Linked DNA regions of Homo sapiens: all the other regions are linked to region 3. The links come from fine-mapping of genetic effects on gene expression. A gene starts in region 3. Each other region holds a variant in brackets. All regions are shown on one strand. Distances are between the middles of the regions. Region 1 overlaps DPP6 (dipeptidyl peptidase like 6). Region 2 holds the start of LOC107986750 (a long non-coding RNA gene). Region 3 holds the start of DPP6 (dipeptidyl peptidase like 6). Region 4 overlaps DPP6 (dipeptidyl peptidase like 6).

Evidence for each region. PIP is the estimated chance that this variant, and not a neighbour inherited with it, causes the effect.
Region 1: its variant is fine-mapped to the expression of DPP6 in cerebellum (GTEx, PIP above 0.99). The same link has a PIP of 0.9 or more in cerebellar hemisphere and testis.
Region 2: its variant is fine-mapped to the expression of DPP6 in sigmoid colon (GTEx, PIP above 0.99). The same link has a PIP of 0.9 or more in esophagus muscle and gastroesophageal junction.
Region 4: its variant is fine-mapped to the expression of DPP6 in skeletal muscle (GTEx, PIP above 0.99).

Annotation. Positions count from the first base shown.
Region 1 is chr7:154,878,444-154,883,443 of GRCh38, forward strand. It overlaps DPP6 (dipeptidyl peptidase like 6), which reads left to right. Exons shown (of 26, transcript NM_130797.4): 21 at 2,445-2,499. Among named protein-coding and RNA genes, the nearest start is that of PAXIP1-AS2, 48 kb to the right of the region's middle. The variant T/C (reference allele first, on the strand shown) is at 3,023.
Region 2 is chr7:153,519,893-153,527,513 of GRCh38, forward strand. LOC107986750 (a long non-coding RNA gene) reads right to left here and starts at 4,339. Exons shown (of 2, transcript XR_001745034.2): 1 at 4,117-4,339; 2 at 3,345-3,933. The variant G/A (reference allele first, on the strand shown) is at 4,432.
Region 3 is chr7:154,050,220-154,055,219 of GRCh38, forward strand. It overlaps DPP6 (dipeptidyl peptidase like 6), which reads left to right and starts at 2,179. Exons shown (of 26, transcript NM_130797.4): 1 at 2,179-2,844. The coding sequence starts at 2,602. RefSeq lists an enhancer at 1,070-1,672.
Region 4 is chr7:154,429,129-154,434,128 of GRCh38, forward strand. All of the region lies in intron 1 of DPP6 (dipeptidyl peptidase like 6), which reads left to right. Among named protein-coding and RNA genes, the nearest start is that of DPP6, 380 kb to the left of the region's middle. The variant C/T (reference allele first, on the strand shown) is at 2,927.

The DNA of each region.
Region 1 (5,000 bases), 830 kb after region 3:
TTTCTTAGGAAGCTGATGCCCAATGGCGCCAAGCCATAGAAAGCCTCCCTCAGCTCTCCCTAGGAACGAGGTCTGCATTTTCATTCATCAGAAAGAAATAGCCCAATTTGATCGGAAACCTAAAATCAGGAGGCTGACACATTAGCCTGACTCCTCCCACTCCCACAGTTCCCCCGTCCACCACCACCATATCCTCACCGAGGAGCCCACAGGCCAGCCTCCCACGAGCAGCTGAGATGAGCTGTGGAAGGGAGCTCGTCCCACCCCTGTGGAAGGCAGCGGGCAGCTGTGTAAACCCGACTAGGGCCGGTGGGCTCCTGTCTCCTAGAGACAGGTTGTCTCTGGGCTCAACTTGGGATTTTCTTCACGATTGTTTCTTTTGGGTCCTACGTGCTCATGTGTACACACACAGACACCCTGGGTCATGTGCTAAGGAGCAGCAGAAATGCCTCATTTTTATTTACTCATTTGTTCACGTAGCTAGTGGAGGAAGCCAAAATAGTTATCCCCAAAATATTGAGACCTGCTAAGTGAAAGATACTGAAAACACAGGGACTCTCTGCCTCTGCCCCTGTTTGCCAGACGCCAGGACATCCATCCTTCCTTCCTGGGGACAGCACCTGCTCATCAGCCCAGAGAGGGTCCCAGCCGTTGCCAGGGTCTCTGGGGGCAGATTGCATTGCCTTCTCACAGGTTCCCTCCTTTTAAAAGACTGGGGGCTGGGCATGGTGGCTCACGCCTGTAATCCCAGCACTTTGGGAGGCCCAGGTGGGCGGATCACCGGAGTCCAGGAGTTCAATCAAGACCAGCTGGCCAACATGGTGAAACCCCGTCTCTATTAAAAACACAAAAATCGGCCGGGCGCGGTGGCTCACGCCTGTAATCCCAGCACTTTGGGAGGCCGAGGCGGGCGGATCACGAGGTCAGGAGATCGAGACCATCCTGGCTAACACGGTGAAACCCCGTCTCTACTAAAAAAAAAAAAAAATACAAAAAATTAGCCGGGCGAGGTGGCGGGCACCTGTAGTCCCAGCTACTCGGGAGGCTGAGGCAGGAGAATGGCGTGAACCCCAGGGGGCGGAGCCTGCAGTGAGCCGAGATTGTGCCACTGCACTCCAGCCTGGGCGACAGCGAGACTCCGTCTCAAAAAAAAAAAAAAAAAAAAAACACAAAAATCAGCCAGGTGTAATCCCAGCTACTCAGGAGGTTGAGGCAGGAGGATCGCTTGAACCTGGGAGGCAGAGGTTGCGGTGAGCCACGATCACGCCACTGCACTCCAGCCTGGGCAATGAGCCAAACTCCATCTCAAAAAGAAAACCGTAAATAAATAAAAGACTGGAGCTGCTCTCTCCTTTGCCTGGTCACTATGCTGAGAGTTATGGCTCTTTGTTAAAATACTGTGTAAACAGGGCCCCTACACCACTGCCTTAAGAGGCACTGGAACTGAGGCCTCCGCCACGTGGAGGGCACAGCGCACGCCAGGAAATCTCTTCCGGTTTTCCTCTTGTTCATCTGACTTTCATTTTCAGGACAGTGACAGTGTCTCGACCAGGAACTCATAAGGGTTGAGAAAAGAAATTATATTTTCTCCTCTTTACTAGAAAATGTCTAAAAATATCTCTAACTCCACACTTGACATTATGGCTTGGCTTGAGGTAAAATCCAGACAGACAATAATTTCCATCTAACAAGCAACAAGCCCACAGCCTGCAGGCGTCCTGCTGCTGGTTGAGGTCCAGAAACCGGAAGGACCCCAGCCACTTCGTGGGGGAAGCAGAAGACCACAATGCGGGGCAAGGTCCCAGCAAGGGTGAGGCAGGGACCCAGGCAGCACTGGCCCAGAGCACTGAGGCCCAGAGCACCAAGCGGCTGCTGCCAAGGCTGGGCCGTAGCAGGAAGCTCATGGGAAGAATCCCTCTGTGGCCAAACAGGTACAAGACAGGGGCCTCCTCCCAGGAATTGGGAACAGAAGGCTGTGCAGGTGGGATGGGGTCTCACTGGCTTGACTCTGAGCCCAGAAGCATAGAACCAGAGCTCCACAGATTCCTGCCGACCCCTAAGGCTCATCCCAGAGCCCGCGTGCTTGGAGTCACAGGCTCTGGGTGGGGGCCCAATAGCAGCAGATGGACCCCATGCAACAGGGGCTGCGTCTCCCAGAAGGGGCTCTGCGGCTGTGGATTAATGGCTCGCAGTCGAGAAGCTTCTATACCTGGAAGTGCTACAGAGTTATTGCAAGGGTGCTTTGAGGTTTTAACGTGAACATGCTGACTTGGCACTAAATAAATAAAAGCAATAAATAATTATATTGGAATGCTAAGGTTGCTTTTTATTTGAAGAGGGGTTTTCATCCTTGAAATGGATGGAAAACATGGCTCTGGGCTACAGGAAGACAAAGTGGCAGCAGGATGTGCACTGAACCCTCTTTCCCCTCCTCGACCTCACAGGACGATGCTGAAGGAGCAGTACATTGACAGGACGCGCGTGGCCGTGTTTGGGAAGGTGAGTCTGCGCCACCCTGGTCTGAAAACCCCTCAGTTCCAGTGTGGCCTGCACCATTACCCACGTCTAATCCTGATTTATTGAGAACGTCTGTGGTCTGCTGGTGAGCAAGTAATTTTTTAAAATCAAGAGCCTGGGTGCTTAGTGATTCCAGCCGTGGGAGGTTTCATTTGATCAGCTCATTTTCCTAAGTTTCTTTTTACATTATCTGGAAGGAAAGAGAAGGGAAGCCAAGTCCCCGCAGGAGAGCTCTAATACATTCCTAATGACTTTTCTCCCATCCATCTGCTGTAGCTCTTGGCATGGTAGCCAGGAAAGAAGCAAAGCAGGAATCTATTTCTGGATAACTCGATGTGGAGTAACAACGTTAATTACCATGTCTACTTAGACGGAAGCACAGGTGTGGGGAGGGTCGCGCAGTGAACTCTCAAACCAGAGCCGCTCCCATCTGGTGGCCCTTGTCAGAAGGCTGTAGCCTGGGACAGCTCAGCTGTAGCTGAGGCCCACGGTTTGGAGTTAGGTC[T/C]CTGCACCGCCACCTACTATGGCCCTGGTACATGGCCCCTCATTCTCCTTAGCCTAGACCTGGGGCCTCTTGATCTCAAGAAGGCCAGCACACAGATGGGTCGGTATAGACCCATCTTCCCTCTGGGAGTGACCCTCAGCACAGGCCCTGCAGAGGAGGCCTTGCTGTGACACCCCCGCAGGTGAAGGCTTGGACAAGTAATCAGCACAGTGCCTCTTACGTCATCGCCTCCAAAACCTCAGAGCCCAGCATGCACTGGAGACCCGGCCCTGCCCTGTGGGCTGCTCCCGGAAGCAGGGGATGCAGGAGCCCTCCCACACCTCCTCCTTACCTGCCGGAGGTGAAGTGGTCAGGAGGAGGGCCGGCGGCTTCTCTCCTTGTTCAGAGCCCGGGCACAGAGCCCTAGAGGTGCATTCCAGGTGCCTAGATGTCCACTCACTGCCTGTGAGGCCCGAAGCCACTGGGTCATTGGTAGGTGTAACTTGGGTGTCAATAGCCATCACCTCTCCCCACCCTCATGGAAGTGACTTCCCAGCAGACTGGCAGCTGAAAGGCAGGGAGCCTGGGCCGTGGTCAGTCTTTTCCAGTCGTCACTCTGCCCCAAATGCACATGGATGCCACTCCTGAGGGCTTGGCCTCCTTCCTGTGCCTTGCATATAGTCCATCCACTCAGGGCCTTTCATAGTTCACTTCTGGACACAGAGAGGCTTTCTCAACAGGCAGTTGGTCCAGAAGCACAGGCAGCCGAGGTGCCAAAGGGAAAGGGGACCCTGTGCACCTGTCAGAGCACAACTGATGCACCCCCACACCCTGTACCCCCGCACTCAGCTCCGCCGAGGACATCTGTCTGAGCTCCGTGCTGGGGATCTTTCCTTTGCCATTCTGCCCAGTGGATCCCGGGCGTCTTTCCAGAGCATAAGCATCTCTGTTTTGTTTTAACAAGCCTTAGATAGAGGTCCGTAGACCCCACAATGGTATTTCTCCTCTGAAGAATAAAGCGTCAATCCTTTTAGTGGCTTGGCATGTTGCGGCCTGTCCATTCTGTTTCCTCCTCGCATGTGCCCCAGTGATCTGGCTGCAGCCTTTGTCAGGCATCGCAGGACCTGGGACACAGAGCCCAGGGGAGCAGCAGCCACCCTGCACCCAGAGGTGACCTGGAGAGCAAGGGGGCACCTGTGCGTTATGTTCTGCAGTTTCCCCCCCGACACCGAAAATCCCCCCTGCAGAAGATTGCCTGTCTCTCATTTAAACCAGAGCAGGCCGCGTGGCCCTGCAGGAAAATGAGATTTAAAGAAAACGAAGAATGACAAGTAAGGACGTGTGGAGTTCACTGACAATAAATATTATTTGTCAGAAAATGAAAATCTTCTTTCATTGTCATTAGACAAGGTGCCCCTGCCCTATTAAAGGAACACACCGGAACGATCGTGCAGGTCATAAATGGTTGATCTTGGAGTTTGGCATGACCTGCGCTTCACGGTCTCAGTCAGGTACCTGGGTTCTCTACACTCCATGCTCCCAACACGCATGCTCACAGACTCACATACACATGGATGCTCACCCATACACATGCTCACACACACATGCTCACACATTCACACACATGCTCACCCATACACCTGCTCACCCATACACATGCTCTCACATACATGTGCTCACACATACACACACATGCTCACCCATACACATGCTCACACATTCACACACATACACAAATGCTCACATACACGCTCACACATACACACACATGCTCACCCACACAATGCTCACACATTCACACACGCTCACCCATACACCTGCTCTCACACACATGCTCACACATACACACACATGCTCACCCATACACCTGCTCACACATACACATGGTGTCACACACACGCTCATACACACACATGCTCACACACACGATTACATACACCTGCTCACACACACACACATGCTCACCCATACACATGCTCACACACACGCTCACATTCAC
Region 2 (7,621 bases), 530 kb before region 3:
GGCTTTCCAGAGGCTGGTAATCAATTAACATGTGAACGGCTTCTGGCCCCATAGGCACCTTTTACAACGTCAAAGATTGCTATTCAGCTCTCCCTGTTTCAATAGCTCTTTACCTTACTTCAATCTTTTCAGGATAGAAGACATCAGGTTTAAAAACCCACTGAATTATCATACCTTCATTTGTTCAGACCTATTCATTGAGCTCCCGCCATGTACCAGGCACTGTGCTGAGTGATGGGAATGTGGCAGTGAGTAGACAGAGTGCCTGCTCTCACGCAGTGAACACTTGAGGAAGAGAAGAAAGCTGGCTTAGACCGGGGGTCAAGGAAGACATGTGAGGGAAATGACTTGTCAGCTGAGGTCTAAATAATGCAAGTTTTCTTGGTTAAAGGCACATGTGTGGGGATGCCTGGATGGAAGGGGTAAGGAATTGGAGAGACCATTCCGGAGAGAGAGACTACATGGAGAAAGATCCATTATCAGAAGGAAATAAAACATCAGGACTTTATCGGTATATTAGCCAGGGTTCAACAAGGAAAATAGAAACCACCTGTAGTTCTTAAACCAGAAGAAATCTGGGAGGAAATTGCTTACTTTGATAAAGGGAAAGCTAAGAAACCAAAGAGGTGACCTTATGCCACAGAAGGGATTAGCAACAGCAGGCAGCTGTTCTTACATTTCAGTTCTTAAATGTAAGAGATTTTGCACTTCAAAATACACCATAAGAAAATTCGAAGGTAAGTTACAGGCTATTAGGTAATATCTGCAAATCATACCTCTGATAAAAGATTGATATGCCAAATATATAAAGAATACTTACAACAACAACGATAGCAACAAGCAACTCGACTTACAAATGGGCAAAAGACTTGAGTGACATTTCACCAAAGAAGACATATAAATGGTTACTAAGCATTTGGAAAGGTGTTAAACATCAATAAACATTAAAGAAATGAAATGAAAACCACTTCACACCCACTAAAGATGTCTACAATTTTTAAAAAGACACACAATACAAAGTTGATACTTCTACATTTAGAAAACCTGGAACCTTGGCCGGGCACGGTGGCTCACGCTTGTAATCCCAGCTTGGGAGGCCGAGGTGGATGGATCACCTGAGGTCAGGAGTTTGAGACCAGCCTGGCCAACATGATGAAACCCTGTCTCTACTAAAAATACGAAAAACTAGCTGGGCGTGGTGGTGGGTACCTGTAATCCCAGCTACTCGGGAGGCTGAAGCAGGAGAATTGCTTGAACCCGGGAGGCAGAGGTTGCAGTGAGTCCACATCGTGCTGGCCACTGCACTCCTGCCTGGGTAACAGAGTGAAACTCCGTCTCAAAAAAAAAAAAAAAAAGGAACCTCATACATTGCTGGTGACAATGTAAAATGGAACAGCCACTTTGGAAAATTGTGTGGCAGTTTCTTAAAAAGGTAAATATAAACTTCCCAAAGACCTTGTAATTACGCTTCTAGGAATCTGCTTGCAATAAATAAAAACATACATCCTCAAAAAGACTTGTATGTGAACGTTCATGGCAGCATTCTTCAAGGCGGCCCAAACTGGAAACAACCCACATATCTGTCACCTGGTGAATTCAGAATTTGGTATCTCCATGCAACGCATTATTATTCAGCAATAAAAGAGGAACTACTGACACCTCCTATACCATGGACAGAACTCCAAAACATGCTAAGTGAAGGAAGCCAGACACAAAGAATCCTTATTAAATAGAAGTTTACGGAGCCAGAAAGCAGACTGGTGGTTGCCTGAGGCTGGCGATGGGAGCATTGATTGACTGCAAGGAGGGTGATGGGAAATTTTTGGGGTGATGGAAATGCTGCAAACTGGATTGTAGGGATGGCTTAGCTGCACACATTTACTGAAAGTCATTGGATTGTGCCCTTACAGTGGGTGGAGTGGGGTTAAATTACATCCCAAAACAGTTGTTAAAAATTACAAATAGGGGTCAGGCATGGTGGCTCACACCTGCAATCCCAGCACTTTGGGAAGCCAAGGCAGGTGGATCACCTGTGGTCAGGAGTTTGAGACCAGCCTGGCCAACGTGGTGAAACCCCATCTCTACAAAAAATTCAAAAATTAGCTGAGCATGGTGGCAGGCATCTGTAATCCTAGCTACTCAGGAGGCTGATGCAGGAGAATTGCTTGAATCCGGGAGGTGGAGGTGCAGTGAGCCAAGATCGCGGCACTGCACTCCAGCCTGGGCAACAAGAGCAAGACTCCATCTCAAACAAACAAACAAAAAAAAAGTTGCAAATAATATATCTTGTTGCAATAATATAGACTCAGCATCAACATGGTCATGTTGTCTCTCCTGTTCTATCTCTCCCAGTCTGTGAGCTGCTCTTGAAGATTTTGCACCCATTTCTGACAGCCTTATTGTTCCATTTCTAGTAAAGTTCACAGGTATTAAATTCCTCATTAGAACATGATGTTCTTCATTCTGAAAACTGCTTTCCTTCAAGCAATTATTAACCACTCTTGTCAAGGCCACCCCTCATGCCAGCTGGCTACAAGTCTCTGCACACTCTTGGACCATCCATCACCAAGGAGCAACATCTGCTGCGTGCTTTTGCCTTCGCTGCCTTATAAAGCAGAGGGAGATCGGAGTCCTGCGCCTGCCTCCATGCTTGTACTCGGAGTTGCTTTTCTGACTCAGAGCTAATATAAGCCTGACCTCACTCCTCCCTCTGGAATTTGAAACAACAGAAGAACAAGGACAGTGCAGAACCTTTTAATGGGTTTCAAATCTCCAACAAGATTCTGCACAGGCAAATGATCCATATACCATCATGAAGTAAAACAGGAGGCAAGAAAAAAGGCAAAAGAAAAAAAAACTGGCAAATCCTGTCTCTGGGCTTATGCTCAGGAGCAGCTCAAATTTTTTCTTTCCTTTCTTTTTTTATAAAAGAAGTATTCTTTCCACGCTTGAGCCTATCAGGGTGAGATCTGCTATCTTTATTTTCAAGTATTCAGTCAAAACCAACCAATCAAACAAATGAACAAACAGAAAAAATACTCATCCTCTCTGCCTACAGCCCACACCCCCCAAAAGATAAAAATAATCTTGAACTCTGGCTCACAAGTGAGGTAAACAAAAATTTTAGTTCTGACTCTGCTGCTGTGTAACCTAAGGCAAGACCGAAAGACTTGGAACGGACTCATTTTTGTCCAAGAATCTCCTAGGAAAGAGGGATTTGTCTTCTTAGTTTCACGAAACCGAACTACAACAGTAGATCTAATGGCATGTTGAAAAAATAATTTCAACATATTGTGATTAATGTCACATTTCCTAACCCACTGAAAAGAAACTGAATGTCGGTATTCAAAAATGAGTAGAATGATTTATTCTCTTTTATTAATTACTTAGTATTCTGATGCTTAGGAGCAGGCATAGGTAAAAGTATGGAGACAGAATTGATTACATAATTTATCATGCAAAACAGGATTAAGGAGTGAAAAAACGCAGTAGTCATCGTGCTGGGACTGCGGGAATAAGAAGAACTGTCTTGGGCCCTCCTTAAAGTCTACTTGGTTTCGCCAATTTAAGAATTTCGAATGGAGCTTGATTTGCTTGGCAGGCAAGCTGGCTTGGGTCCATCGGGAGCCTGGGCATGGGGAGGAACATGCCAGTGTGAGTGCCAGTGGAGGGAGAGGTGGGCAGAATTCCCCATGAGGGAGAGGCACTGGAAAGCTCTCTTCCCACGCCTCCTGGAGCTGCCACGACAAACTCCTGCAGACGGACAGCTTGAACAACAGAAGTTTATTTTTTCACAATCCTGGAGGCTGGAAGTCCAAAATCGAGATGTCAGTTTCTCCTGGGCCTCCCTGCTGGGTTTGCAGAAGGCCGTCTTCTCTCTGAGTCTTCACATGGTCGTTCCTCTGTGTGTGCCTGTGTCCTCATCTCCTTTTCCTATAATGACACAAGTCAGGTTGGATGAGGGCCCATCCCTATGGCCTCATTGTAATTTAGCTATTTTTTAAAAGACGCTATCTCCGTAGACAGTCCCATTCTGAGGTGCCAGGGGCTGGGACTTCAGCACATGCGTTTTGGGGGGAACGCCATTCACCCCATAATGTGGGCTTTCTTACATACCTGTGACTGGAGCCTTGACGGCGCCTCAGTCAGAGCTGATCACCCAAGCGCTCCCAGTCTCTGCCCTCCCTAGCTTGCTCTGACCCTGGCATGGCCTCAGGAGCCCTCTGTAGAGCTCCCTGCAGCACCGCCTCTGTGCCAATCCAGGGTGTGAGCCAGGGAGCAAGACAGACGGGGAGTGGGGAGGAATGAATTGAACAGCCTCAGGGTATGCACGCCAAATGCAGAGCAGGCCCGTGCCTTTAAACAGAGGACCATTCCTTTCCTTTTAAGCCTGTTCTTGGCCTCCCCCGCCCACCTCTGCAGAGACCAGGG[G/A]CTGAGGCCAGTGGGGTGGCGTTTGTTTTGGTGACTGTGTTTATGTTCTCACTTCAGGCGGCTGACAGGAACACACTGCTAATGAGAGCTTTGCCTGTTAGGGAGATGCTGTTTATGCAACTTCCAAAGAAAAAGAACAGCCGCCTGTGTACTAGGTGTTCACAGGGTGGGAGGGAGCTTTTTGGAGCCTCTCCAAGGAGGAGGTGGAGGGAGAGAGTTGTAGCTGGTCCACTAGCTCCGTGTATGAATCCTCTGCCCTGGCACAGCCCCATCATACAAGGTCATATCCTCCTAGAATGAGAGAAAGGAGTGGGCAGATGCCATCCTGGTCCTCAGTATGCTCAGAGCTCAACAGTAGTCAAAGGTTAAACAAAGTCACATTAAAACTCCCCAGGAGGAAGCATTCAAATAGCAAAAAAAGCAAAGTTAGGAAATATAAAATGTCAGCTAATATATGATTTCCCCCTTTGGCTTATTCGTTCCTCAAATCCTACTAGGGTGGTGTTACAGGGGCGGCCCCAGAGTGCTTACTCAGGGGCCATGTTTCTGGGGGTAACACTTCTTTCCTAGAGAAGCCCTCTAGTGCCTTCCAATGAACCATGCAGTGAATCTGAGGAAGCCGTCATTCTGATTCAGTGAAGAAGAATCACAAAGATGGCTGGCATTGCAGACCTGCAGAAGACCTGTCATCTCAGAAAGTCTTTGGACCTTCCTTTCAGTGCTCCTGCTGCTGCAGGGGTGTCTCCCAACTTGAGCTTCTTGAGCAGCAACTCCATCCACCGCCTCAGCTGGGCCCTGGTGTAGGAGCTCTGCTATAGGCATGGTGGGCTCCCTGGTCTATCCACACAAATTGTGACTGAGCTGAGGGTCACCCACTGCACTTGGTCTCAGTCCACAAGCCCCTGATGGTTCAGAAGGTGACTTGGAGTAGGATATGACTTCTTTTTAATGAAATGGCATAGACTATAACTTAATAAGGCATTGTTTCAAGAACTAGCTAGTTTTCCTGTAGGGGAAAGTGGCACAGAGCTCGGGCAGAATCATCCTATTTAGACGGCAATTTGTGAAATATTTTTTAAAAGGTTAGTCCTCCATGCCCACTGTTTGCATCCTGGGTTTGGACTTGGGAGCAGAAGGATGGAATTGGCAGTGGCAGGCACATCACATATGCAAACCGAGACCCTGTGAGAAGATGGTTTGAATGTCCGAGATAACACTGTTATTTCACCAGTGAGACACGGGAGCCTAGAAGAGTACTGATCCCAATCAAAGAAACCCGTGTGCCTTCCTGGCAGCATGCCTCACTCCATCCTCCAGGTCCTCAGAGCACTTTCTCCACCCCACTGTGTGCTCCAGGCACGATGCAGACAGTCACAGACCTCTCTCTACAGGAGCCATCTCTCAGGATCCAGAGCAGGGGTGAGGGTCATGAGTGCTGGTGTTGGTCACACGTGGGCCCCAATCCCAACCTTGCAACTATGATCTCTGCAATACTGGGCAGGCCCCTTAGTTGCTCTGATCTTTGGTCTTCTCATTTGTTAAGTTGACAGAATAATAGTAACTCTCCCACAAGGTGGTTATGAGGATTAAATGAGATAATGCATGCACAACATTCAATACAGTAAGTGCTCAGCCTGTGGTTACTGTGAATATCCTTGAGGCTAAATTGGGCATCCTTAAGATTAAAGAAAAAACTCACAAAAAAACAAAAAATAGCACTTTGCTCATATCCCTAGTGTCCAGCAGAGTGAGCGTATGTAGTAAATGTTCAATGCATAACAGCTGAATAGATGAATAAACAAATATATTCATTGCAAATCAGATTGCACAGATATATGCACATTTGGCCTCCTTTTAAAAATAATGTTAACACAGAATAATTTATTTAAAAAGAGTTTTACCAGGGAAAGAAAGGGAACATTACATCCAGAGATTCTAGCGGAAGAAAGTTCCTACATTTATAAGTAATACTTAGTTCTGAACTCTATAGCAACCAACATTTGCCTTATATATATTTATATGGGCTGCACACAAGATGAAAAATCAAGAGAGCAGTAGAACATAGTGGTAAATAATACAGATTTTGGAGCCATCCTGCTTGAGTTCAGATCCCAACTCTACCACTTTCTAGTGGTCTGACATTAGCCACTTAACCCATCATATTGGTGCCGTCATTTTCCTATCTGTGCATATTCCATAGGATTATGAAGATTAAATAGGTTAATTTGCATAAATCACTTTTATATGGCTTACTATGTATCAACTACTGTTTTCTTTTTGCTTTCCATTGAATTTGGGTATTTATTCATCACCTTGAAGACGACTGCATAATCTGCCTCTTCCTGTGGGATTTAAACAACAAATTAAATTAACCATAGGGGTTATAATCATGTTGGTAGCTGAGATTTGTACCAGTGAAACAGTAAGAGGACCCTGAAGTCTTGTACTAAATGCCCAAGAACCTCTCCGTCCCCCACTACATAGTCGGGGATCTCAGGATGTGGGGAAGGTCGAGCTGTGGCTCCTCCAGGATGAGCGGGGTCTGCCCAGGATGAGAGCCCCTGACTGAGATGGCACGATGAGGGCGGTGGGGGCAGATGGGCAAAGCTGTGGAGGTGGGATCCACAAGGACTACAACTGGGGTGTGGGAGGGAATAGAGAAGTGGCGGGGGCTTCGTGCAGGACAGAAACAGGACACATGGCGGAGTGGGAGCTCGTCCACCGTGGAAGCCCTGACAGAAGGCCTGGCAGGGAGAAAGCGCAGCCTGCTGTGTGTGTGACCTCACTTGGAGATGAATATTGCCTGGGGAATTCTGGATGCAAATAAGCCCCCATTCGACCTTGGAGCACAACCTGGAGCCATGGCAGGGCCAGAATTGCATGTGACCCTCCTGCTGTCGTAGACCCAGCGCCTCTTCTCACTGCAGCTCTGTGTGTGAATGTGCTGGGTTGTTCCCTGTGTTCCCAGAATCCAGCTCATCGCATCCAGCATGGAGGAACAGGTTGACGCTCCCTTATCCAAAACGCTTTTTGGATTTTGGAACATCTGTGTCATACCTAATGAAATATCTTGAGGATGGGACCCAAGTCTAAACAGAAAATCCATTAATGCTTCATATGCACCTCAAGCACATCACCTGAAGGGAACTTTAGACAATATTTTTAGAATTTTGTGCATAAAGTTTTGACT
Region 3 (5,000 bases):
ATATTTTCTTAGATAATTTAATTGAGATTTTAAACTTTAGTTAGATTACAGTTACCTACAATGCCTTGAGAATATAGTTTTTAAAAGTGGCACATATGCTTTATCCCAATAGTATTCTATCTATGATTAATATGCACACATCTATCATTGTATTTTGTATAAACTATATTAGTATGACATTTAGTTTGTGTAAAAATATGCATGCATATTTCATAGATAGCGTATGTATATTACATAAGTGGGACCCTAACTGCATCTATATTTAGTGAAATGTCAGGATCGCGATGCTGCGGTGAATAGCATGAGCTTTCTTTCATGTCCATGTTAGGAGAGGCAGCTTCCTCCCATCAAAAGCACAGCTGGGGCAGAGGAGGGGGTTGAGAGCAAGGTTTTCTATCTATCTAATTGTGGTGACTTTTAAAGTTTAGTTTTATGGCTCTGTTGCCTCTGTCTTCAAAGTCAAATGGAGCAGCTGAAGCTCTCCCCACCCCAGACCCACCTGCCTGGCCTCTCCCATGCAGCAAGTTTCGCTTAGCTGTTGCAATCCTGGTTTTACTTGGTTTTGTATTTGCTATTTTTTAAAGTGTTTTTAAACTCATGTTTCTTCATAGTAAAGGGTAACTACTGTGGAGTAAACAGAAGATGAGCGTGGTACAAATTTTGGTTAAACCAAAAACTACACACTGGATTGAAAGCTTGGGGAAGGGAGGCAGGTGGAAGGGACTGAAGGAGGTCTCTTCCCAGGAGACTTGTTCACCGGCATCCAGTATTCTCCCCCGCAGTTAGGGAAACAGAGGGAGCATGCAGTTTCAGGCCCAGGCAGGCCTCTCTCTGGGCTTGGGGCAATGCCAGGGCTGGGGGCGAGCCTGCAGTCAGCCTTGTGAGTGGCAGCCGAGGCTGTTATTTTGAAACCCTAAGTGGAAACAGGCATGGAAACCCGGAAGGAGCAGGGAGCCTTAGGCAGTCCTGGGAGATGAAGCCAACGCCCTACCTCCATGTGGAAGGAGGCGGCGGAATGGGCAGGGTCGGGTCTCACAGGTTCCCCCCTCTGGAGTTGGGGTTTCCCGGCCCACGTTCACTCTCTGGATGTGATAGGTCCTTCCCGGCCGGGAAGGGCTGGAAGGGGCGCGCAAGGAGGACGTGGGGACGAGACGAGAGAGACGCGTGCCCAGCAACTCCAGAAGGACGGAGAGGAGTGCAGAAGGGAGCCGGGGAGGACGCGGGAGGGCCGGGAGGGGAAGAGAAGCCAGGCCGGGCCTGGAGCGGAGGAGCGGAGCCCGCTGGTGCGGGTGTCCACACAGGGGCGCTGGAGCGCGCCTTCCTGCGGCTGGGCAGGAGGCAAGCCCGAGAGCGCGCGGCGAGTGGAGCCATGTCGCCCTCCCTCGCTCTCGGCGGGCACAGTGAGGCGCAGGCTTTGGAAAAGTTGCGGGCAGCCGGAGAGCCGAGCCTCCGCCTGCGTTCATGATAATGAGAATGGAGTCGCGGTCACAGCCGGGCTCTCTGCGGGGCGCATCGCCCGCGAGGGGCGCCTGGGCCTCTGGGCGTCCTCTGCCGCCCCGCGACCTTTCCTGCCCTCCTCCGGAGAGAGGCGAAGGGAAGGGGCGGTTTCGGAGGGAGCTGGGCTGTGGAGGGAGGGCGGCCTCTTCACCAGCGTCGTCCGACCACCCCGCGCCCTCCTGGTGGCTCTCCCACGCCCCATTCGCACCCCAGGTCCTCGGGGTGTCTCTGGTGTTGCTTCAAGTTAGGCAAGAGGAGCTGGGGGCGCGGGGAGCCCGGCGCCGCAGCGCGTGCGTGGCTGGGGCGCCCCGGGGCCGGCTGCACCTTCAGTCGCCCCCTGGCCGGCCTGCCTGCCTCGACCTCCGCATCCCCTTGCACCGTCCGCTCGCGTGCTGCGGGGCACTCGCAGCACTACCTTCGGTGGGGCCGCAGCACCCTGAGCTCCCGGGACTCCCCCACCGCCCCCGCACCCACGACCCGCGTGGTCCCAGCCCCTCCACCCTCTTCACGCACCCTCGCACCCTTTTGTGCGACCCCGTGCCCTCTCCGGGCTGCCAACCCCTGCCACCCAGGTGCCAGTCCCGGGCGCGGGGAGGAGGCCGGTGGGGAAGGGGGCGGAGGGGCCGGGGTGGAGGAGGAGCTGCGCGAGGGGCCTGGGGGCGGGGAGCGAGGAGAGCGCTCGGAATGTGTGCCGGTCTCTAGGTGGTGCCAAATTCTGGGGCCTAGGCATTTCCCTCGCTTTATGTTTTTGGTTTTTTTTCTTCCTTCAATCTCTTTGATTAGGCCGTACGTGGCTGTGGCAAGGAGTTGGGGAAAAAAATTATAAAAACAGGAAAGAGAGAAAGCACAGCCAGAGCCCCGGCTTCGCGAGCCGCCGGGGAGGGGGCGGAGGAGGCTGAGCCAGGCAGAGTCGCCAGCGGAGACTCGCGAGTGGCGCGCGGGAGGAGCGGCCGCCGGCGCTGGGCTTGCCTTGCTGCTGCTGCTGCTGCTGCCTCCCCACCGCCTTTTTTTTTTTTTAATCTGGAGCGGGGTGGGGAGTGGGAACCGGAGAGAAAGCAAAATATTAAAAAGCCCCAAAGACAGCCAGCAGGAGCGCGGTGCCCGATGGCTTCGCTGTACCAGAGGTTCACTGGCAAGATCAACACCTCGAGGTCCTTCCCCGCGCCCCCGGAGGCGAGTCACCTCCTGGGCGGCCAGGGGCCCGAGGAGGACGGCGGCGCAGGAGCCAAGCCCCTCGGCCCGCGGGCGCAGGCGGCGGCGCCCCGGGAGCGCGGCGGCGGCGGCGGCGGCGCGGGTGGCCGGCCCCGGTTCCAGTACCAGGCGCGGAGCGATGGTGACGAGGAGGACGTAAGAGCTTCTCGGGGGCGGGGGGCGGCGGCGGGTTCTCCGGGCTGAGCGCGCAGCGAGACGCGTCGGCAGGGGAAATTTTTTTTGGGGGGGGAATCAGGCGCCCTCCCCCCGCCCACGACTCTCCGGGCGCCCCCAGACAGGCTCCGTGGCGCCAGATCGCGGTCACCGCGTCCCGGAGGGAGCGGGTCTGTGTCTGCAGCCGCGGCGGCCGGGAGTTGGTGGCTGGAGAGAGCGGGGTTTGGGTACTGCGCCTGCTGGGATCTGGAATTCGCCTTACGTTCCCTGGGTGCGCGGATGTCTGTTTTTAACAGCATGCTGCTATGGTTCCTAAGGAGAGAATTCGATCGGCCTGTGCTTACGAGTTGGTTTATTTTTTATTTATTTCGTGCTCCGGGAACACAGCCTCAGGCACCTTCTCTCCCTCCCACCTGTGTCTGGAATCTCTCCATCGTGCCCCTCCTCTCCTACTCACTCTGTCCCTTGACTCAAATGCCTCTCCTTCGTTCCTCTTCTTACTTCTCCTAGACACTTTTTCCCCCCAGCGGTGGTGATGGTGATTATCCTTTCCGGAAAAAAAAAATACCAAAATACTGGCATCTGAGCCCCAACCCTCTGTCCCAGGGCCCAGCTCTTTTGCTGAGAGCCCTCAGGCCGTGTCTGTCTCCCCTCCCAGCCCTGGACTAGCACCTCTGCCTTAGACCGTGTTCAGTGAAAACTTCTCCGAGAGCACATTTCCTACTCTTCATGGGGGCTGGAAGCCTGGGTTTCAAAGGTTGGATTTGCACATCGCCCTAGTAACCAATGACTCATGCAGGACAGGAGCCGGACCTTAGATGGATGCGTTTAACCACCTCCTGTGGATCCCTTTCAAGGATGCAGAGGGCTGCTAGGACTTAGAAGGGAGGAAACTGTGCTTTTTCTTTGAGGCCTTCTTTTCCCAGGGAAAAGAGAAAAATCCCCGACAGGCTCTCAGAGAAACAGGTCTGGCTTGGCTGGTACAGCTCTTATAACAGCTAGGCTGTGTTGGTTTGTAGAAATTACTATGTATGCCTTTGAGGAGTTTCACAACTGCTCAACCTGGGAACCGCAGGGGTCCCACCGGCCTCTCACTTAGTCTACCCTGACATACCCAGGGCAGTACATTGCCGGGCACTGAGTAGGTGGTTTTGGTCATTACCTCTCTGCAGCCTCCAGCCACGCTGGTTCCCTGTTTCGTATTTCTTTAGTGCAAGAGTTGTGTTTGGGTCGAGGGAGGGGTGAGACATTGAGTGATTTCCCAGGGACAATTCCTAATTGCCAGATACTATGAAATCAGTGAGGTTTTGCTGTTGTTATTGGTAGTTTTTGTTTTATGAATGAAGGATGTGGAAACTTTAATGGAGATCACAAAACTTTGTGGGAGATGTGGTTTGCACACACACAGGTACACACCCCCTACAGCCCTGCGTCAGATTTTGCATGAGGTTTTGTGATTTTCTCCTGCATCGTTTCCAGACTCCCCTGGTTAAATAGTCATTCAAAGGCATGTCCCTCACTTTGGTGGGCCAAGCCCTGAGGGAAATAGACAGATCCTTCAGTCATCTGGTTCAAGTCTTTGGCAAATGGTTTAATTGGGGGAGGGTGAAGAGTTCTGGAGGATTAAACTACCGAGAATCTTGGGGAAGACAGTTAAGCTGCAATGCAAACAGGAAAAATGTACTTTTTACCTTAAATCTGACTTAAAATTGTTGAATTGTGGATGTTTGGAATGAGAACAATGTGCAGTTTTTTTCTCAACAGGCTCTAGGTGTCGCTAGGAGAAAGGAAAGGCAAGAGCTCTGAATTTTATTTCAGATGATCTCCATCTTTTTTTAAAAAAATCTTAACTTGGAGTATACATGTCCTTCTTTTTATTGTGACATGTGTCTAGAAATGATTCTCAGATAAACACAGGTGTCCTGAGAAACAAATCAGGGATATAACATGTACATTTGTTAATGGGGTTCTAAACAGCATCTCTAACTTAGATGTAAGTCCTGACATGCTTTTTTTTTTTTTTTCTGGAAAATACACAATGTGTGTGGGTGGGCGTGTATTGTGTGTTTATATAGTGTACTCCCGATATATATATGCACACATATATACTTGCCCATTATCTGCACATATATATCTGG
Region 4 (5,000 bases), 380 kb after region 3:
TGACCTTGGGCAAGTCTCTTAACCTCTCTGAGCTTCTGCTTCTTAATCTGTTAAAAAAAAAAAAAGCATAATTTGTCTTATCCTTGTTTTGATCAAATGAATGAGTTCTGGGAAATCCATCCAGCTGGTCAGTGGAATCCACGTGCGAGCACAGCAAGGCCTAACGAATTTGCTGACGCTCCTCTGACCACCTAGCTTCACAGATGGGTGGGCAGCCAGACCTACAACCCAACCCACGTCTGCCAAGTCCCAGCCTTTCCATTCACCTTTCAAGGGAAGAAAACTTCTCATGTATTGGAAAGCACAGTGCCTCTAGTGCCTCTCTTTCTTGATTGTTGGAGTTGGGTCTCTCAGCATTGTGGTTCACTACGACAGAGCATCGCTTTTAACAGCCACATAAAATAACCCTCTTGGGTAACACACTCAAGAGGCTTCGTGAACTCGGGAGGCAATCTGGGCAGGCTTACAGCTGTGTGACAACACAAACGCTGTTTATTTGAGTGTTATCAGGAAGATGTGTCACTGTCATGGTTGAATATGGAGAAACAGGTGCCCGCCTCGGAATGGCTACCCAAGTCAAGGAGGACCCAAGGCTAATGTGGAGACCACGTTCCTCCCTGGAGTACCGGGGTTAGGCAGGGCTTGAATGAGGTGCAGCGAGGCCGGTGAAACACAGCAGTACCACGTGTCTTATGTCACATCAGCAATGCAGGTCGCGCTCGTCACAGACATTTCAGATGGAGCTGGGTATTATATTCCAGTCCTGGCATTTATTATGGTCACCACCAGCACAGAGCGTTCCTGGCCTGGTGCTGTCTGGTTTCTGGAATACAGGCCATCCTTCCTGATATTCTAAAGCCTGCCTCCCACCCTCAAAGAGTCAGACGGCAAGTTTCCATCCACCCTCCCAGTTCTCAGCCTTTGAAGGTGAGAAGCTCCTCTTCTAGGGGCCGCTGTCAGAATCTCAGGGTTTGGCACTGTTGCGCTCGCCTCCATTCCCCAGGCTCCTCGACGGCCTTAGATGCTTAAACACGCTGCTGCCTCTCATCTCTGGACCAAGGCTTTCGTTTCCCTGTGAGTAGACAGCACTAAGGCACGGGGTTAGTTTAATGATGCAAGTCAACTGGGGAGCCTTGCTGCTATAGAGATACCCTTTGTATGTTTACTTTAACTTCTTGCATCAGTCAATTCAGGCTGTTGTAGCAGAATACCACAGACTGCACAGCTTAAGCAGCAGCAATGTATTCCTTATGATTCTGGAGGCTGGGGAATCTGAAGTCAGTGTGCTGGCGTGGTCAGGTCTGGTTTGTAGATGGCTATTTTCTTGTATCCTCACATGGCAGAGAGCACAGAGCAGGCTCTTGAGTCTCCTTAGAAGGGCACTAAGCCCATTCACCCTCATGACCTAATTACCTCCTGAAGGCCCCCCTCCTAGTGCTGTCACATTGGGGAGTTAGGATTTCATTGTATGAATCTGGGGAGACACAAACATTCAGCCCATAGCACTTCCCCAGCCGTGCAACACAGGTGCCCTTTGGTGGTGTTTGCATAGGTCATGGCTGCTGATAGCCACCGTGTGTTGACTGCCCACTCTGTGCTTGACGCTCTGCTAGAGGCTCTTTATGTTGTCTTTAATCCTCACTTCAGTGCTGCAAGGGCTGTGTTATTCCCAGCTGACATATGAGCTTCCAGGAGTTTAATGGATGGAAGCTCAGCTGGCACATGGTGGAGGCAAACCCAGGGATGTCTGACTCATTCGAATGTTTCTTTCGTTAAGTTAAGTCTTCCATTCAGGAAACCAATATTGCAAGTTCAACGTGTGAAAATGTCACTAGGCTCCACGGTGCTAGAGAGGTGGATCCTGATGATGTCCTGTGCTCACGGCGCTTACTTTGATTGGCACCCAGAGAGAAGACATGAGCAACACTGGTTGTGTTCAGATGAGAGACAGTGCACCTCAAGGGAAGTGTTGGTGAAGTCCTCAGAGGAAGGAGGAACGCAAAGGCCTGTGTTCAGAACACCGTGGTGCCCTGAGAACAGCTGCCAAGGATGCTCGCTGGGAGCCACAGGCCACCAGGGGGAAGCGCCAAGGCCGTCTTTCAAGATGCAGTTACATCATCACTGAGCAGCACCAGCTCAGGGCTGCTCCAGCAAGCCTAGACCCACCCTGCTTCCCTGCGCCACTCCCCAGGGCCTGCTCCACACCACCCACAAAAGGCAGGCGGACAGTGGAAGAACACTCCAGGCCCCCAGCTCCAAAGGCTCAGATAGCCGCTGTCGTCAAAACCTCATGTCAGGCTCTGTTTTTCTTTCCTTTCTTTTCTTTTCTTTTCTTTTCTTTTCTTTTCTTTTCTTTTCTTTTCTTTTCTTTTCTTTTCTTTCTTTTATTATTTCTTTCTTTCTTTCTTTTTTTTTTTTTTTTTGAGATGGAATCTTGCTCTTGTTGCCCAGGCTGGAGTACAGTGGCATGATCTCAGTTCACCACAACCTCTACCTCCCAAGCTCAAGCAATTTTCCTGCCTCAGCTTCCCGAGTAGCTGGGATGACAGGTGCATGCCACCACGCCTGGCTAATTTTTGTATTTTTAGTAGAGACAGGGTTTCTCCATGTTGGTCAGGCTGGTCTCAAACTCCTGACCTCGTGATCCGCCCACCTCAGCCTCCCAAAGTGCTGGGATTACAGGCGAGAGCCACCGCACCCAGCCTTTCCTTCTCCCTTTCTTACCCGACTTCCTTGGAATTGGTATTCAGGACCTTCCTTTTCTCCTGGTATCTGCCCAGTGATCCAGGACAGCGCTCAGCTCCTGGTAGCCCTGGGCTCTGTGGTTTCAGGCTGGGTGCATCTGTTCCTGTGCCCTGATCTCAGCCTGGCCCAGCTCCTTGGCCTCTCCACCCTCCACTTCCCTTGGAAGAAAAAATGGGGGTAA[C/T]GGTAAGGAGGTGCTCTGAGTAAAGCAGTTTCCGGGTCCAAAATAATTCAAAGAAATGAAGAGCAAAAATCACAGTACAAGTAGTTTAGCTTTTCCTCAGTTAATCTGCCATAATATTAAGTAAAGCTAGTTTTAAGTATTTAGGCTCTAATGAATTCCATGTACTAAGTTGCCTGGCTGTTTTCTAATACATGTTATTTGAAGATTCTCTTGAAAATTGCTTATATCATGCTGCTATGTTACAAGAACATGGTTTTCACGCATTCTGGTATGGAATGTGTATGTTGCTGTCACTTATTTAATAATAATAGTCACAATTAATCAGTACAAATATTTATGGCCCTAAGTACCCTGAGATCTGTTGCTTGATACATGTCTGAACATTTTGGACAAAAAGAGGCCAGTGTGGGACAATGAGATAGCCTTTTAATAGAGAGATTCTTTTCTCTTAACAATGATCTAGGGGTTTTCGGGGGGAAACACACACCCCCTTCTCCATCGGGACCGAAACTGCTCTTGTCCGTGTGTTCTGTCACACGTAGATGAACAGGCTTTCAACACCTGCACTGGATTTTATAATGCATTGGGTTTGGTTATTGTCATTATTGTTTTTACCAGTTTATTTATTCATTATGGTGCTAGCCACAAAGCTTATGCATGCTGAGCGTGGGTTTCAAATTTTGAGTTTTTTTGAAACATTCAAGACACGGAAGTGGGCATCACAGGTCATGAGTTCTGTTCGATAATGATGTCACTGGTCACCCATGTTGCTTTTGACTTGGTAAAAGAAAAATTGTACTTAGGAAAAGCTGCCCTCATATAATGTGTACTCATATGGTAGTTAAATAAGTCCAGTCAAGGGCTGTAAGACAGCCAATCAGAATCTTGTTTCTAAATGGGCATGTTTCTAAACTGGTCTATGATGTGCTAATGGACAGAATTTTGCATTTGGAAAATTGCCATCACAAACTCTTGAGCCTTCCATTCTTAAACCAGTTGCAAGGGGCTTTACCAAACTGACTTATCCAGGTTACAGATATAACAAGTTCCTGTAGGTAATGGCTCTCATACTAGACTGCAAGTTTTTTTTTTTTTTTTTTTTTTTTTTTGAGACAGAGTCTCACTCTGTTGCCCAGGCTGGAGTGCAGTGGCACAATCTCAGCCCACTGCAACCTCTGCCTCCCAGGTTCAAGCAATTCTCCTGTCTCAGCCTCCCAAGTAGCTGAGACAGGGACTACAGGTGCATGCCACCGTGCCTGACTAATTTTTGCATTTTTTTTGTTTTTGTTTTTTTAGTAGAGATGGGGTTTCAACCTATTGGCCAGGCTGGTCTTGAACTCCTGACCTCAGGTGATCCGGCCGCCTCAGCCTCCCGAAGTGCTGTGATTACAGGCATGAGCCCCCTCGCCCGGCCTCATACTTCATTGTTTATAAGCGTGTACTGGGCACATTGTGAAACACAAACGTTCTCCCACCCTGTCCCCAGAGACTCCAGTTCAGAGGGTCCAGGAATCTGCATTTGACGTGCACACCCGGGGGTTCTAAGGCTATTTTTGTACCATCATTTTGAGAAATACATGAAGCTATTTCAAACACTCCTCATAATGTCAATTAGTCTTCTCCTTCTGTCCTAGGAACTAGATAATTATTATTTCTTTTGTCCAAAATCCTTTGGATTATACAAATGCATTATATCTGGAGGCAGTAATTAAGCTCTGGCCTGGCCCACTTTTCTCCAGATAAGTACACTGATTACCTTCGCGTTTCCTTACAGGTCCAACTTTCCAACAAAATCATCACTGTTTGCTTTCCTTTAGGCCTACACGTTCTTTTCCTCTGTTACACAATGTCTGAAGTAAAACAAAGATTTCTGTCTTTCCTTTCATGTTGTACATGTTGTGACTAAAACACATGCCTCAGGTCTCAGTCTATCTTAAACTGTGGTTATTTCTTTAAAATCCATTTTACCTATAAGAACAATAAAGGCGTCTTCAGGCTTTTTAAACCTGTAACAATTTAAAGACATTGGGTCATAAAATAATGTTTAACCTGGACTGATACAATTAAAATAAAA